Linked DNA regions of Homo sapiens: region 2 is linked to region 1. Evidence: fine-mapped expression QTL. A gene starts in region 1. The other region holds a variant in brackets. All regions are shown on one strand. Distances are between the middles of the regions.

Region 1 (5,520 bases):
TCCCCAGGATGGCTGAAATAGTTATCTTTGCTCATCTCCCATCTTCAGGCTGTCACTCCTACAATCCATCCATTCTCTGGCACTAAGGAGGTGCTCAATGAGTATAGAATGAATAAATGTGTAAATGAATGAACCTTCCATAGTGACCCCAGAATCTTTATGAAAGGTAGTTCTAATTATGTCACTCTTCTCAGAAGCTTTTAGAGGTGCCTATTTTCTCCAGCACGCAGTCTCCATTTCTTAGCCTGATGGTCAAGACTTTTCATAATTTGGATCAAGTGAGCCTAAACTGGATGCTCATCTAAGCCAAATTACTCACCCTTCCCTTATGTGTATTGTACATTTGGTTTTTTTTTTGCCCCCACCTACTGGCAGAGACAGTGCTCACCAAAGCCCATCTTGTGCCTCCTGCATTTTCCAGCCTCCCTTTCAGGCCAGGTGAAGGCTGAGTGACGGGTTCTGGCAAGTGGACTCCCCCCATGATGCAGGACTCCCCAAAAAATCAGACATTGCATAAGCAAAGGGAGAAGCCACCAAGATATTCCAAGTCTATACGTCACCACAGCAGGGCCTTACTCTCTCCTGACTAATCCACACATCCTTGCTTCTGCCTAGAGAGATTTTCCTCTCTTGCTGGCCAGTTGATTTCAAGTTTCAGTTGCAACATAACCTTGCTGGGGAGGCCTACCCTGACCAGGAGTCAGTCACTCCCACCTCTCTCAACTCTCAGGGCTCTGTTATCACCTCCATTTACACCCGGAATGCAGGCCACCTGGTAGGTTGCACAAGGGTTTGTCTGCCACACTACACTGTGAGGTCCCAGAGGGCAGGGACTGTGTCTGTTTAAAATTTTGTTTCTCCCACCAGACTGAGCCTTGTCCTTTGTACTCAGAAATATTCAGGGTGTTACCAAAATGCATTAGGTCAGAGAGAAAACTGTTTACCCCCAGCCTCAGTAGAGAAAAAAGCATGGCCCATCTCAACCTTGAGGCCACAGTGGTTGGTGGGGGATTAGCAGGGGTTTCAGGTGAGCAGGACGCTGTGGGAATGAGGGAGGAAGGGGAGGGCGGGACGGAGAAGGGTTCTGGAACCTGGTCACTGCCGTCCCCGCCCCACTCCCTAGGGAAACTAGCGGCCAGAGCTGGAAAGAGCCTGAGTAGCTTCCAACTGTTTACCTTCTGGGTACCATGGCGACTGGAGACTGGTCGCCATGGCAACCTCAATATTAATCAGAGGCAGCCACCACTAGCAGATGGTGAATGAGGACAGAAAAGACATAGAAACAGGAGCATCAAAGGCAAGTGCACACGTAGTCACGGCCAAAGTCCCAGCTAAAGTGATTAAGATCCTGCCTCCACCAGCCAGTCACCCCAAGAACCACCGCTCCTCCCCTCCGGGCATCTACACAGGAGGAGGCCCCTCTCTGTGGCTGAACCGAGGCTGAAGAGGAAGTGCGGTGTTTGGGCATTGGTGCGAAGCAGGGGGAGTTCCTGTCCTTCCCCCTACCCCAAAGAACGCAAAGAAGCTCCCACCAGCTTAGTGAAATCCCATCTGGGTCCTCTGACCTGGCCGACTTTTCTACAACTGGGACTCTGGCGTAGAAGACCCAGTTGGTGGATACCACACACAAGTGACCATCTCTCCTCTCCCGGCCCAACCACCCGCGTCCCCCATGAATTCTCAGCGTGAACGCACGCTGTACATTGGACTCCGTGCCCAGACAGCACTATTCTTGCTGGTTTTCATGAATGAAAGTGTGTATGTGTTGGGGGGAGGGGGTGGCGGACAGTGCATAATGTTAGGGGCACCGAGCTGTCCACTCCGGGATGGAGTCTGAACCCGGGTGGGTGCCATTCCTGCTGATCCCAGCCTCGCCCCTTTGGAAGATGTGATGGGGAGCGTCTGCCGTCGGGGTGCCGGGCTTCGCTGCAAGGGACTGCTCCCGCCAGCTTCCGGCGAGGCCTGAGCCGGCGGACTGCGTGTCAGAGGCACCTGGTTCAGGCCAAAGAGGCCGGGGCGCCGGCTCCAGGTCCTCTAGGTTCCAGCGCCATTCATCCTCCCTCACGCGCCGCGCCAACCGGAGACCCCCGCTGCAGAGGGCCGAAGTTAAAGTCCCAGCTGCGCCGCTCAGTAGGGAGATTACACAGGGAGAAAAATGAATCACCCGGCCCGGGGTTGCGGGACTGCGAGGGCCTGCGCGCCAAGGCCCCCAGGGGCGTCGGGAGGGGCCGCGGGCTGAGCTAAAGAGAAAAGCCTGACGGCTGGGAGCCCGGCGCCTTTATCCGGTTAGGGGATTGCAGAGGATCAGAGAGCCCGCCGCCCCTTCTCCTCCATCACCGAGCACTAAGCCCCGGGCGTCCGAGATCCCGGGTGTGATTTTATCATTAAAAAAAGTAACCGCGCACTCCTAAAAGAATTTTAATTCTCGCCTCCTCCTCAGCCTACCTTTCTCTTTGAATCCCCAAGGGAAAATAGTCCCCTGGGTTGGGGGGCAGTCCTTCGCCGCTGCCTTCCCCCGGCCCTGCTCCCTCCAGGCCACTGACTCAACCTCCCCCGGCGCGGCGCGGACTCGAGAAGACGCGGCGCCCGCTCCCGACTTGGAGCCGGGGAAGTGGGTCCTTCCCGGACTGGCGGTCCGGGGACAGCGTGACAGGAGGAAATGTATGGGGTGGGGTCGCGGCTGCAAGCCCTACCCGTCCCCAGCGGGAGCCAGCCCTGCTCCTTCTGCCTCCCGCCCCGACGGCTCAGCGGGCTCGGCCCAGCGCGGCTGTGGGACGTGAGTAAAAGGGGGTGCGATCGGCTTGGGGAGCACGGGGAGGGCTTCCTGTCCTTTGAACTGGACTGGAGGGGTATGGGAGCCGGGGAGTGGGAGCCGAGGCCGTAGCCGATCCTTTTTCACTTTCTCTCCAGCCCGCGGCCCGTTTCAGCACCGGGGGCTGCGGACAGCGCCGCGCCCGCCCCTGGAAGCAGCAGCATCCCTCCCCTGCGTGTGGTTCTCTAACTTACCTCCTGTATGGGGTCTGCGGCCCCAGCACACCTCCCGGCGCCCCCCAAAAAATTCCAGCTCAAGAGCCCCTAAAAATCCTTACCCTGCCAAAGTTTGAGCTTCTCCGCGGCGCGCCAGGGTCTGCGGAGCGCCTCCTCCCTCGGCCTCCTAGGCGCAGTTCCGCTCGCTCCCTCCCCCGCGCTCCCGGCCCAGGACTCTGCTCGGCGACTGCTGAAGGAGCCTGTGGCCTCCCTCTCCGTGGGAAAGTAAGGTGAGGCTCTGGAGCCTCAAAGGCGGTCCGAAAGAGGCAGAAGTCATTAGTTCACATCCCCAACCCTCCCAGGGAGGACGGGGAGAGTCAGGGGCAAGAAAGCAAACAAGTCCGTCGTTCCGTTCTGGGTTCTCTCCTAACTGTGGGCGGCCACCCTGGACTCCTTCCTGGGATGTTTTGCTGGTAGTGTAATCCACACTGGATGAGTAAGCAACAGAGATCTGGGGTTTGAAGTTTAAAGGTGGGGACACACACACACACACACGCACAAAGTCTTGGACCCGTTTGCCATCTTAGGGAAGATGTTAGAAACAAGTTTCTCTTTGGGACAATGTGTATTCTCCTTGCAGAGTTTTTGTTTCCTTCCATCACATCAGATAACATCGGATTTCCTGAACTAAAAATTAAAACCACCAATCCAGCTAGTAATTATTTAACCCCTATTGAAGCCCAAGGAACTTAAACTCTTTTTGGAGAAAATAACTTTATTTACTAAAACTCATTTTCCTCCCAGAAGGTGTACTTCCAAGAACACACCTCTCCATGAAGGATGAAGACCGAATCCTGCCTTTCCCTCACCAGCAATTGCATGCTCTGGTTCTGGATCGCAGGAGCAGGTCCCGGGAGGAATCCAAGCCTCCTTGCCTGGGACAAGCCTCTTGGGTTCCAGGTTCTCTTGACTGATACCCTCATGGGAAGAAACTCCACAAAAGCAGATCCCACCGCAGCCAGCTAACCAGAGCTTCTCTGAGGACTTGGAGTACATGGCATTTCCTAGCATACTTATCAAATCGCCTGTTAATTGAACACATTATCTTTAGAAGGCTTAAGTTCATCGAGTTCATGCAATACTTGAAGGGAGAGATGAAGTGTATGTTTTTCACTGAAGAAATAAAGAATTAGAATGGCTCACACACACATGTGCATGTGTGCACACATGTCATGTCTTAAAGGGGGGAAGTAAAACCTAGACAAATTTTCCCCCAAAGAAAATCAGGCTTAGTCGTTCAGATTCAAGGGACTCTGGTAGTGGAAGAGCAAATAAATGGAAGTGGTGAATCAACAAAAGGAAGCCAAAGCCACAGAAGTTGGAAGAGAGGAGAATTCTTATTTTATTACTTGGGCTTCTGAAAGGAACCTGAAATTATAATAATTTCAAGAGAAAATATAATAGATGAGACTTTGCCTCATTGAGGACTTCAGTATTCTTATTCCAGGGAATCTCCACGTGCCTCAATTATGAATCTCCACGTGCCTCAGTTGTTATGTGCATTTTTTTTATAGTTCTCATTGTCAGGAAATGCTTTATTTCTTCTAATCTCATTAATTTATGCAACAAGTTAAAGCTGTTTCCTGCTGGCTTGTCCTCAGGGAAGACTGGAAGCAGATGATTATTTTCTGTTGTCCAGAAACATTTCAGAGTTTCAAAAGAATCTTAAATCCTGATTTTGGAGTAAATAGTAGTGATCATGAGATCATTTTAAGGCATCATCCTGAAAAATCCCCTTGGACTTTGTTTCTGAAATGCACATCATTCCTAAGATTTGAAGGGGAAAACAAGACCTCACAGAATTAATCAAGAAATGGAGAAGTGTCCTGAGTCTGATGAAATGAGATAGAGTGTTTAGCACAGAAATGGGCACATAGTTGGCCCCTAGGGAATGATGTATGTGGCAATAGTTATCATTGAAGAACTTTGGGTGTCTGAAAAGTGGAAACAGATGAAGAGACTGGAAATGAATGGAAAGAGACTGAAGGGGATGTATCTGTGAATTTGCCTGCAAAAGTCATCGAGCTGCAAGATCCTAGGCTGCCATGATGGAGGGTCCAGATTTGGCCCAATGCTCACTCAATGGAGTGGCCTCTGGGGACCTTTCCAATTATTGCTCAAGCTTCAACTGAGGCATGGTCGAGTGTGGAAGGGACAGCAAGATTTTGTGAAGATGCAGGATACAGCAACCTCTGAATAAATTAGTGGGATGCTCTAACAGGCCCATGGCACTAAGAGACCAAGGAGCGCGATTCTCAGAAACCCAAAGTCTTTTGGTGTTTGTTAGAATAGGGAGACCACAGGAAGAAGAGAGCTATGGAGAAAGCACCATCTCCTCTTTCTGACAGAGCAGGTGAGAGTGGGAGGAAGGGGGTGGGGGCCAGGTGAATGCTAAGTTGCTTCAGCCTCAGCCAGGACACTAAGGAAGTGGGGAGGGGTCTGTGGGGAAAAGAGTAGCACCCAGGAGCTGAGGAAGTCTGGAGCCAGGGAGCC
Region 2 (5,000 bases), 40 kb before region 1:
AGGTGGAGCTCTGGCTCCTGGGCCTGGTGCCCTGGTTTCCCCCTTTCCGCTGCACCTTCCACCCCTGTCGCTTACCTGCAAATAAGCAGATACCAGTTATAGAAGACAGGCAGGGCGATGGCGGTCAGCCAGCGGTAGTACAGGTTGCTGGACGGGTCCACCACGATCGCATCCTTCTTTTTCGTCTTCTTCCTGGAAACCCACACATACACAAACAGCGCACTGTGCTCCAAGACTGTAGCTTTGGAGGGTTTTAGAGAGCCTAGGGCAATTTCAGGCTGAAGCCCAAGATGTGGCTGTCCACAACAGGGTCCTCTTAGTCTCAAGGGAGTCACATGGGGAGTCCCTGTAGGGGAAGGCAGGCCAGGAGGTAGGGTAGACTCCAGAGGTCCTTCTCTCCCAGCTCAGTCCCAGGAGGTCACGGTCGACTATAAGGTAATGGTGATGACATTCCCATGTGCCCACGACAACATCCACACCCTTCAGGATGCTGAGAATGAAAACGCAGCATGGCAATGTCACAGAGGTCTGCTAAAGTCTGGGGAACTTCCAGAAAATTCTGATTCCCAGGGCCCACTCACCTCTTCCAGGGCTGGGCCTGGAAATATGCATTTAAGCATTGCCTGGATAGTTCTGAGGCAGCCCCTCTCTGGACAGAGTTGGGGAGCCCCACAGTATTCCCTCCAGAACCCTCTCCACCTCCCTCACTGTGTTTGTGCGGACGATGTAAAGGCTCATTTCCAAGGGCTTGCATCACACCTCTCCATCAAAAGCCTGGGAATAACCTGTCACGTGGGCCCGCACGGAATGAAATACATAGCTTAGAGTGCTTAACTTTTATTCTTAGAATTTCCCGCAGATTCAAGTTTACAGGCTGTACTGGAGACTGCCTTTTTGTTGGGTCCATGTGTCCCCTCTGCCATCCCATGCGACCCACGCTGGCCCAGGCCTGCAGAGTGCTCCTGTGCTCCATCGGAGACCCCAGTGACTTCCTGCCTTCACCTGGATGCTGCAAGTGCAAGGTCACTCACTGACCGGGCTTTGGGACGTTCCCTACAGCTCTCATCACCACTGAATTTGGGTGAAAGTTTGTGAACATTGTATCTTCCAGTGCCCCAGAGAAGCCCTCAGCCTACGTGTGGCCGGCCCACTTGTGAGGGCAAACGAAATGCTTCGGGTGGGGGGCACATGAGCAGGCTCACAGGGGCAGCCCCCGGCTGCCCACCGGAGGCTGCAGACAAGCAACTCTCTTTACTTATAAGCCCCCCTTGAGTTCCCGGAGCTTGGAGAGGATTCTTTCTGCAAGATGGGGGCTTCACATGGTCTCAGGAGGCATGGTCTGCAGCCTGCTGGGACCGACTTTTCCTCAGCTCCAAGCACCCTCTCCCCTCCAGGGCCGAAGCTAAGGCCCCCTGATAGCGTTGCTCCAAGATACCCAGCCCTGGAGCCCTGCAGGGAGGGGTCAGGCCTGCTGGGACCATGGCACCCCGTCTTTAGAGGCAGCTTCCTTCAGTACTTCCTCCTCGTGTTTTAGGTAGCTTTTCTCTCTTCTTTTTTCTCTTCGTTCTTTTCTGCCTTGCTGCTGGATGATGCCGGGGCACATTTAGCAGACTTCATATATCAAGGACATTACCAAATGGAAGGGGCAGGCTGCTGCGTCCCGGAGAGAGGGCGTGGCGTGTGGCGTCGTGGAGACGTCCTGAAGAGAGGGCGTGGCAAGGGGTGCTTCCAGCGCATTGGGATGAAATGGGGTTATTGATTTGTTATTATTATTCCTGAAGCGTGAGGTAAACCACCCCATTGAGTATACATTGAGAAATTAGTGGCTCAGTCTAATGTTCTACAATTTCTGATCTATTTTCATGAGCTCCTGGGAAGTCACAAACAGCCAGAGACTGGAGACGTTTTGAGGTAGTACGACATAGACCCAAATCCACACATTGAAGTTGGGAAAGTTACTCGGAGTTTTGGAAATCCCACGCCAGGCTCTCCGTTCTGAATGGAAGGGTGTGGCCTGTCCGCTGTTCTTGAAACCTCTCTCTGGATCAAGTGAAAACCTGGGCCTTAATGAGAAAGCCAGTGAGCAGAAGGGAAGCAACATTCGAAGAGGCGGGTCTGTGACGCATGTAGTGGCAAATA[C/A]GTGTGGTCGCAGGTTCGCAAATGTGGCCGAGTTCAGACACGCCTTCGGACTTTGCTGGGCTGCGAGACGGTTCAGGCAGCGTCCGCAGGATGGTCCTGTGACTGCAGGTTTTTCTTCAACATAAGACTTCACACTGCTGCCTCTTCTTTATTGGGTGTCTTTTAAGAGCTAGGAACTCTTATAAAGTTATCTAATGAATACATGTAAATTTCTTCAAGGCAGGCAGTAATGCCCCATTGAATAGTTGAAGAAACAAAGGTTGCGGAAGGGACAACCCCTCGAGTCCCCTTCAGGCCCCTCTGATTTCTCTCTTCCACACGCTGAAGGAAGGCATGGTTGAGAGATAAATTCTGCTAATTAAACACTCATTGAAAAAGATCCATTCACAATTACCTAACACTTCCTATGGAAATAATCAAGGCTGTGTGCGATACGTGTGGAAAAATAATCACTGCCATTATTCATGACAATCAAAAAGGGAGAGCCACCGAATCACACGACCATGCAGGCTCATCCTCAACGGTGAATTCTACATGGCCACTTAAAACGCTGTTTCAGAAGAGCTAGTGACGTGGGAAAACGGTTCCTAATATTTTGCTAAGTTAAGAAGCAGACTACAAAAGAGTTTACCGTAATAGCTGGATCAGTTTTCTATTTCTGCCGGAACAAATTACTGCAAACTTATACAACATAAATGTATTATCTTGCAGATCTGTAGGTCAGAAGTCTACTGTGGATCTCACCAGACTAAAATCAAGGTGTTGACAGGGCTGCCATCCCCCAGAGTCTCTAGGCGGGGCTCTGATTCCTGCTCGTTTGGATCTTACGCAGAATCCAGCTTCTTGCGATTGTGGGGCTGAGATCCCTGTTTCCCTGCTGGCTGCACCTTTCGAGGCTGTGGCTTCCTTAGCTCAGGTCCCCTTCCTACATCTTCAAAGCCAGCAGTGATGGGTCGAGTCCCCCTCACACTGTGACTCTCTTCTTCTTCCATTTACTTTCTCTGACCCACTCTTCTGCTTTTAAGGACTCATGTGATTACAGTGGGCCCACCCTGATAATCCAGGATAACCTACCTGTATTAGTCTGTTCTCATGCTGCTAATAAAGGCATACCCGAGGGTGGGTAATTTATAAAGGAAAGAGGTTTAATGGACTCAGTTCCACATGGCTTGGGAGGCCTCGCAATCATGGTGGAAGGCAGATGAGGAGCAAAGTCACATCTTACGTGGCGGCACGCAAAGAGTCTGTGCAGGGGAACTCCCCTTTACAAAACCATCAGATCTCGTGAGACTTATTCACAGCATGGGAAAGACCCACCCCCATGATTCAATTACCTCCCACCAGATCTGTCCCGACACATGGGAATTAGAGGAGCTACAATTCAAGATGAGATTTGGGTGGGGACACAGCCAAGTCAAATCATTACCTATCTCAAGGACCTTGAATGTAATCACATTTACGAAGTTCCCTTTGCCATATGAGGTAACCTGTTTACAGGTTCTAAGGATTAGGATGGTAGACATCTTTTGGGGGAGATTGTTCTGCCTACCACACAAGTCAATATTTATTGAGCACTTACTATGTACCAGGCACTGTTCTGAGCACTTTTCACAGAGTAACACATTCAGTCTTCACTCCCACCATGTAATAAGACCCTATTACAATCCTTATTTTATAAGCCAGGAAACAGATACACAGAGAAGTTAGGTAACCAGCTTATGTGGTTTGAATCTGTGTCCCTGTCATGGTGGTGGATTTCTCATGGTTTGGCACCAATTCCTTGGTGCTTTGCTTGAGACAGTGAGTGAGTTTTCTTGAGATCTGGTTGTTTACGGCACCTACCCCACCTTCCTCCTGCTCCTGCCGTTTGAGACTCCTTGCTCCCCCTTTGCCTTCCACCATGATTGAAAGCTTCCTGAGGCCTCCCCAGAAGCAGAAGCTGCTATGCTTCCTGTATAGCTTGCAGTACCTCAAGCCAATTAAACCACTTTTCTGATAAATTACCGAGTCTCAGGCATTTCTTTCTAGCAATGTGAGAATGGACTAATACACTTGTCCAAGGTCACAAAGCTCTGAGGCAACTGAGTTGGGAAACAGATGCTCTTAACAAGTATATGTATATATAAAATATATTGTATCAATCTAAGTATTCAATATATATGCCTAGGAAGAAGTTGGAAGTATATTTGTCAACATGTTAAGTGGGGCTATCTCTGATAGTGGAATTCCATGGTTAGCATGAAGTGCAGTTTTTGTGTGTGTATGCCCCTGTGTGCTTTTCTTGTTTTCCAAGTTTTCAGCAAGAGTATTTCAATAAAGTGAATTAGAATAAAAGGTTATTAAAATCATTAAATGAAAAGAGCAAGGAAAGTTACCCCTCCTCTGTCCTCCAGGGTGATGTGAACCCTGGTCTCTTTTCAGGCACTGGAGTCTTAACGTCAAGTCACCAGCAGACGGCGCTGCCCTCAAGCTTTTTGGGTGAGCTTTGCCCTGCAGTTTACGCCGGACTCAGCTTGCCTTGTGCAAGATTTGTGGCCCTGGATTACGGGCCTTGGCCTGTCTGGGTACCAAACTGCTGAGAGCCTAGGAAAGACCCAGCACCATCGGCTGCATCCCCAAATCCACCCAGCACTGCCCCAAAAGAACCCTACACAGAACTGCAAAATGCTGCTGGTTTTGGCTGGGAACAGTTTGATGGGGGAGGGAAAAATTATTCAGGACAAATGAGACCATATGAAAATGACAGAAATGGAGTGAAGAGTCGGGGAAGGTGTTCATAAATAATTATTTTGTGTGTGTCCTCATTTTGGGATAGTTCCCAGTTTTGTCCCTTGGTCCTTGGCTTCAAAGTGGACCAGTGA

Which allele goes with the higher level. Positions count from the first base shown, and alleles are read on the strand shown. Sizes are in standard deviations (SD) of each study's normalised expression.
With allele A in place of C in region 2, the expression in testis of the gene that starts at base 3,168 in region 1 is lower (moderate effect, 0.64 SD a copy in GTEx).

Evidence for each region.
Region 2: its variant is fine-mapped to the expression of CNGA3 in testis (GTEx, PIP 0.94).

Annotation. Positions count from the first base shown.
Region 1 is chr2:98,344,104-98,349,623 of GRCh38, reverse strand. It overlaps CNGA3 (cyclic nucleotide gated channel subunit alpha 3), which reads right to left and starts at 3,168. Exons shown (of 8, transcript NM_001298.3): 1 at 3,090-3,168. RefSeq lists an enhancer at 2,157-2,668.
Region 2 is chr2:98,384,850-98,389,849 of GRCh38, reverse strand. CNGA3 (cyclic nucleotide gated channel subunit alpha 3) reads right to left here. Exons shown (of 8, transcript NM_001298.3): 6 at 76-192. Among named protein-coding and RNA genes, the nearest start is that of CNGA3, 41 kb to the right of the region's middle. RefSeq lists a silencer at 1,565-1,752. The variant C/A (reference allele first, on the strand shown) is at 2,140.